Homo sapiens: one gene and its partner. The protein of the gene in region 1 purifies or fractionates together with the protein of each later gene. This does not show direct contact. Each region holds a gene or a part of one and is shown in the gene's direction. Other genes may lie near its edges. The genes, in order: GSTA5 and EIF3M.

What was found.
Region 2: the proteins of GSTA5 (region 1) and EIF3M purify together in Homo sapiens (affinity purification with mass spectrometry; one large-scale study listed by BioGRID and IntAct). This does not show direct contact.

The regions. Positions count from the first base shown.
Region 1 is NC_000006.12:52,834,549-52,838,113, reverse strand, and holds part of GSTA5 (glutathione S-transferase A5), read left to right. Parts: intron 1-504; coding exon 505-556; intron 557-1,745; coding exon 1,746-1,878; intron 1,879-3,565.
Region 2 is NC_000011.10:32,600,686-32,603,984, forward strand, and holds part of EIF3M (eukaryotic translation initiation factor 3 subunit M), read left to right. Parts: intron 1-3; coding exon 4-147; intron 148-1,076; coding exon 1,077-1,137; intron 1,138-1,593; coding exon 1,594-1,714; 3' UTR 1,715-2,125; coding exon of another isoform or gene 2,126-2,335; 3' UTR 2,336-3,299. Other genes in the region: CCDC73 (coiled-coil domain-containing protein 73), read right to left, coding at 2,126-2,335. UniProt on the Homo sapiens protein: Component of the eukaryotic translation initiation factor 3 (eIF-3) complex, which is required for several steps in the initiation of protein synthesis.

The DNA.
Region 1 (3,565 bases):
TGCAACAGCTGCAACTTATTTCACCCTTAGCAGGGTTCCTGAAAAGTGGGGTGATATAAATTATAGCAGAGGCTCCTTGGTGGCAGAATATTTGATGGCCATTAGCCCATGGCATACCCCACACTGGGGACACACAAGGTTGTGGTCTGATCTCTCCTGGAGACACGGGCTTTACTAAGATATGACAACACCATAACTAGGAGAACTGCTCAGTGCCTTCTTTCCAGTGATGTCCCCTCTCAAAATATGACCTAATCATAGACATTCATCAGAACAGGGTGGCAGTGAACTAAAAGATTGAGCAGCTATGTGCTGTGACCCATGCACTTTTCTCAATGAATTAGGTCTAAACTTCCAAATGGCCATTACCAGCCCCCTCTGTATATCCTGCGAAACTCAGAAATCTTATATTCTCCAAATCATGCACCAGATAGGGGCCATTCAACATCACAAGTCTATAATAGAATTAACTAAGAAGAACCCATTTACTGTTTCTGCTTCCAGTTGGAAGAGAAATTTCTAGAATCTGCAGAAGATTTGGACAAGTTAAGAAATGGTAAGATCAATCTCTAAGTAACTCTGATGAGAGTTTCTAGTAGAAGGTACAGAGGAACGTTGAGCAGCCAGGAATACCTATGTGTGTGGGGGGTGATATTTAGTCACGGTGGAGAGGGAGAAAGTGGTTAAAATGGAAGGGATGTGGCTCCTTGATCAGGTCTGGCAACTCTCTCCAAGCTAAAAGGACCAGACCTCTCAGAGTATTTGTTAGAGGAATGATATCCCGCCCCCGGGGAAAGCCCTTTTTCTGTTTTCATGCTTGGGGGACCGTCAGTGAGCTGTGGTTATCAGCACAGGATCCCATAGAGCCCTCCCCATCCAAGCACACGCAAGAACATGCGCTAGATGAAAGGAGGAAAAATCGACGTGGCCATTGCCTTGAGGTTTTTCTTTCATGGGGGGGCGTGACAAAGTAACACTGTGGCACTATTGCAGGCTTTGAAGAGCAGAAAAGGGGACCCTTATATTAAAAACCTCTCAGAACCTGCCTTAGATGTCGCAAACACCATGAGACTTACCCTGAGAACTTCCCATTTTAAATGGCACCTGTTGCCAGTCCTATTGTAACTTGTCCCAACCTCTTCCTAAAACATCCATGAAGATAAATCAACACAAAAAATACAAGAGTCCTGCTATGTATCTGGAGGGGAAATAAAAACAAAAATGAAGTAACAGGATAAAAAGTAGAAGGAAGCTGCTTAAGAAAAAGAAGAACTACAGGAAACTTTTAAAAAATGTTGTTTGGGCCGGGTATGGTGGCTCACACCTGTAATCCCAGCTCTTCGAGAGGCTGAGGCGGGTGGATCATTTGAGGTCAGGAGTTCGAGACCAGTTTGGCCAACATGATGAGATCACGTCTCTACTAAAAATACAAAAATTAGCTGGGTATGTTGGCACATGCCTGTAATCCCAGCTACTCAGGAGGCTGAGGTAGGAGAATTGCTTGAACCCAGGAGGCAGAGGTTACAGTGAGCTGAGATCGTCCCACTGCACTCCAGCCTGGGTGACAGAGTGAGACTCTGTCTCAAAAAACAAAACAAGGAAAAAAGTTGTTTCAAGTGAAAACTTAACAGGCAATAATTTCTTTTTCATTTCACAAATTTAGTCATTTCCATAACCATTTTTTTCATCCCAAAAGGGTGGGTTTCATAGACACTTCATACTCCTTTTTTTTTCTTCTTTCTAAGATGGGAGTTTGCTGTTCCAGCAAGTACCAATGGTTGAGATTGACGGGATGAAGCTGGTGCAGACCAGAGCCATTCTTAACTACATTGCCAGCAAATACAACCTTTATGGGAAAGACATGAAGGAGAGAGCCCTGTATGGTATATTTTCTGTTCTTCCATCCACAGAGAACACAGAGTGATTTAAGTCCTTCTTTGAGTGGGTGGGACCATGGCAGGGCATCATGACCAGCAGCAGGCTGGGTCTTGAGGATGCACGCTGAGGTCCAGTATTGCAGAGTCCCATGGAGATGAGGGAACAGTGAACATGGGGAGGGTTCAGGCAAGGGTGATTCTAAAAGAGGATGCAGTCCATGGATCCTGCAACCTGACTGAGGTTTCCAGACACTCATAAACCCTATGAACTGAGGAGGATGGGGAATCATGATTCAGGTACTCAGAACTTCAGAGGCTAGACTCCAGCCAACAGCGTAGGGCAAGGCATAGAATGTCTGAGAGTCTGTAGATGAAGGCCTGGGGAGGGAAGGCTGTAAACAAGCTGAATCTCAGGTCCCAGTAATTCCAAGAATCATGACCAGGAACCTAAATTACCAACCAATTATATGGGCCAGAACACTTGAGCAGGGCTAGTAGAGGCTGGTGCCCAGGATGCTGGGGTTACCTTGACACATGGATAGAAGGCTGAAACAGCCAGATTGATTCAATACCAACAAAGCCAAGGGGTCTCCTCTCTGTTGTGATGAGACTGCATAATTACAAATAAATCCTGAATGGAACTGTTGGCAGCTCCACAAAAACTTTAACATAGTATTACCAATGACCCAGCAGTTGCTCTAGTAGGCATATCCCCAAACAATCAAAAATACATCCACACTAAATTTTTTACAGAAATGAACAATGCAAATAACAATATTCATAGTATTCAAAAAGTGGAAACAACCCAAATATCCATCAATCAATAAATGGAGGAGAAAAAATGCCTTAGCCATGCAATGGAAAGATATTTGGTCATGAAAAGGAATGAAGTACCAATGCATGCTACAAGATGGTTAAACAATAAAGACATGTTACATAAAATACACAAGACACAGAAGGCCAAGTATTATAGGATTCTTTTTGTATGAAATGTCCAGATATTCAAATCCATAGAGGTAGCAAGTAGATTAGTGGTTGCCTGGAGGTAAAGGAGTGGGGCTTGGAGATAAATGAAGAATACCGCTAATGGTACAGATGTCCTTATCAGGGTGATAAGAATAATTCTGGAATTAGACTGTGATGATTTTTACAGAATTCTGTGAATCCACCAAAAACCACTCAATAGTGTAATTTAACAGGTTGCAATTACAGTACGTGAACATACGTCAATAAAGGTCTTGTTTTAAAAAGTATTGTGAAACTCTAGTTTGACACAAAAGAAGAAAAGTTTGCACTGGTTGTAATTGTATAGAGAATTTCACCGGGGAAGGGGATTCTTAGGTGGGGTCTCAGGAAAGGCACACATGGCTAGAGTTAGGCAACAGCACATGGAGAGGGCTGTGGAAATGTGTTTCATGGGTGTAATTGGAAGAACTGCTAATATGGGGCACAGGAGCCCTGGGAGCTGTAAAATGATGAGAGAGGACAAGAAATATGGCTGAGATGGCTGTGCCAGGGATTCTTTTAGGATTACTTAGAGGGCAGCTCTTTGGCCATTTGACTCACACTAAGTTCATGCACAGAACAAGCCACAATTGAGATGATAAATCCTGGCACAGCATCAGTGGGTATTGGCAGTGATTCCACCAATTTCTCTCATGACTGTGACCACCGATGCTCTTTTTCCT
Region 2 (3,299 bases), on another chromosome or scaffold:
TAGGCCTGTTACATGAACAGAATATGGCAAAAATGAGACTACTTACTTTTATGGGAATGGCAGTAGAAAATAAGGAAATTTCTTTTGACACAATGCAGCAAGAACTTCAGATTGGAGCTGATGATGTTGAAGCATTTGTTATTGACGGTAAGGCAGACAGAACATTTTCATTTATTTCTAGAATTTCTCATCTACTACATGGATCATAGTAAGATTTTTATCTGGAAACTGAGCCTTACACAACAAAGATTTGTTTATAGCAGATGTGTATTTAGTAGATTAGTGGATATATTTGTTGTAGGGTGAAAATTTAGTAGAAATATAAACTGCTATATTCTATCCCTTGAAATCACGTAGAACAAAGACGTTTAGGCAATACACCACTGTGGTTAAGAGCACAGATTTTAGTATTAGATGTGGATTTAAGACCAGGCCCTTCCTTTGTGAAACAGGAATGTAGGGGTTCATTTGTGGTTGTAAGAATTAAATGAATTAATACAGGTAAAGCACAGTGCCTGGCACATAGTAAGTGATCTTTCAAGTGTTAACCATTACCAGTTTTTTTATGATTAGCCTAGAAACAAGAACTTCTTCCCCAACAATTAGATTATAAAGCAACTTAACTGCTCAGGAATTTTTTCTGAGCTTTTTAAATTTGAAAGTTGGGATTATGCAATTAAGATTAATAAAAGGTACAGAACTATTGACCTTTTTTCCCCTAATGCTCTAAGTTTTCTATGAAGAAGTAATAACTTAGTAGGAAATTAGTTTATTCCCCTATATGAGATGGTAGGGGAAGAACACCTAGCATTCTTTAAAAAAAAAAAAAAAAAAAAAACAGCAAAAAACTGTATGCAGTATTTATTTAATATAGATTGTCCCAGCAGCCATAGGACAAATGCATGACCTTTCTTTTGGTTGCCCCATACTGTTTTGCTTATTAGATTTAAACAGTGTATAATGTTGGAAAACAGTATAAAGTTTTATTATGGCTTACTTGGTCACAGTTTTCATACCTTAGCTATTTTTCTTGGAAATTTTCCATATAACATACGATATAAAACATCTTTTTTCAGCCGTAAGAACTAAAATGGTCTACTGCAAAATTGATCAGACCCAGAGAAAAGTAGTTGTCAGGTAAGATATTTAATGCTTTGCAGCATTTTATAGAACGATTTAGTTTGTTCCGATTATTTCACTTAAATGTTTAGAGAACCAAGGTGGTGTTATCACTTGACTGTAGTTAAATAGTTGCTATTTATCATAATTTTATTAAAGTTCAGACTGAATGTGATTAGCTTATTTAATGAAAGAGTCCTATTTTCCAGCACATTTCATTTAATGGCTGAGCATTGGCTAGAATACTAATGACTTTTATGTCTGCTTTATATAGTTGCTCAGGAGAATTAGAAGGCTTAGGATCAATATGGTAAAGATTTTTTTTAAATAATTATGTAATTCTTAAATTCTCTTACTATTCTAAATTAGGTATATTTAATCTTGCTTTTAACTGGATTCAAATCTGTAGTATTATAAAAGAATACCAGAGGCTAAAAGGTTGACTAACACTGTGTTTAATTTTTCAATTTTTAGTCATAGCACACATCGGACATTTGGAAAACAGCAGTGGCAACAACTGTATGACACACTTAATGCCTGGAAACAAAATCTGAACAAAGTGAAAAACAGCCTTTTGAGTCTTTCTGATACCTGAGTTTTTATGCTTATAATTTTTGTTCTTTGAAAAAAAAGCCCTAAATCATAGTAAAACATTATAAACTAAAAAAATTTGCCTAGTCTGGACAGTTATTGTCTCAAATTTATACTAAAATCACAAACTCCAGAGGATATGAAGTAATAAATTACAAGGGGTCACAATGTCTGTCATACAATACATAAATTCTGTTCTTTAAAAAAGGATATTGAAGAAGCAATGAGCACTTTAAAGAAAGGATAATATACAGAGAGAAGACAGAAGTAGAGTAATACAATTTCTTCACATTAGAAAAACTTGGAAAAGCAAAGACAAACTGTAGAGCTTTAAATACAACAGTCATTTTATTCTAGTAAAAACTATACCAGAATTTCAGTTACATAATTTCACTACTGAAAGCACTTATCTACATTATTTTAATCTGTTGTTTTTTTCCAACGTCTCTTCTGCTTTTCTTTTCTTTGGCTGGTTGTCATTTTCTAAACTTAGTAAATTTTCACTTTTATTTAGTTGATTCGTAATGAGGCTCTGCCAGTCATCATCACCAGAAGTATTTTTAGTCGTCTTGATTGCCTGCAAATGGCTTTGTAGTGGAGTTGATATCAGAGGCTTTGTTTTCACCTGGGAAAGATAAACTAATTTTACCTTCGAAATTATTATACAAAAGATTTTAAAGAGTCTGTAAAGCCTCTGCAGTTATGAGTATGTGGTAAAACCACCATCTCTTGGCTGATTTCCACTACCTTAGTAGTTCTGGCACCAGAAAAGTATACAATGTGAATGTGTAGGCTTATGTAGTAGATCTTCAAAATCTCTAATATATAACTGAAGTAAAGTGTACAAAAACTGCCTTTTACTACTTCATGTTTCCTCCCATGCTTCAGAACACCATTGTTGAAGAAACAGGAAGGGCAGTGAGATATTTGGAAGTTGGCATGTTTTCAAGACACTGTATTGGGTAATTTTAAAAATAGTGTGTTAAATAACTTTTTCATTTTAAGGTTCTTTTCTGATGTTAAAATACTTACTGGAAATTTAGAAAATAGAGTAAAGTAGAAAGAAACTAAAAATCATTAGTAATCCCTTATCCAGAGAGGCTTGTTGACATTTTGGTATTATTTGCTGCTAGCGTTTTTTTCTATTTTTAGCCTATTTGATCATTCTATAGAATTTTATGTATTTTCCTCTGTGAGCAGTTTCTTAGGTCATTAAAAACAATTGTCTATGGCTGCAAAATACTCCCTTTTATGGATGTTTGATATATCTCCTACTACTGAATGTTTGTTTCCAGTTTATCCCTACCAAAAATTAATTCGAGTTAATTTCATGCAAAACAATCTTTGATGTTTTTGAGAGATTCCCAGATAAAATTTTCTCTTCAAAAGGAATACTGGGCCAGGCACTGTGACTCATACCTGTAATCCCAGCACTTTGGGAAACTGAGGCGAGTGGATTGCATGAGCTCAGGAGTCGAAAACTAGCCTGAGCAACATGGCAAAACCCCATCTCTACCAAAAATTAGCTGGGCATGGTGGCATGCAACTGTAGTCCCAGCTCCTCGGAGGGCTGAGGTGCAAGGATCATT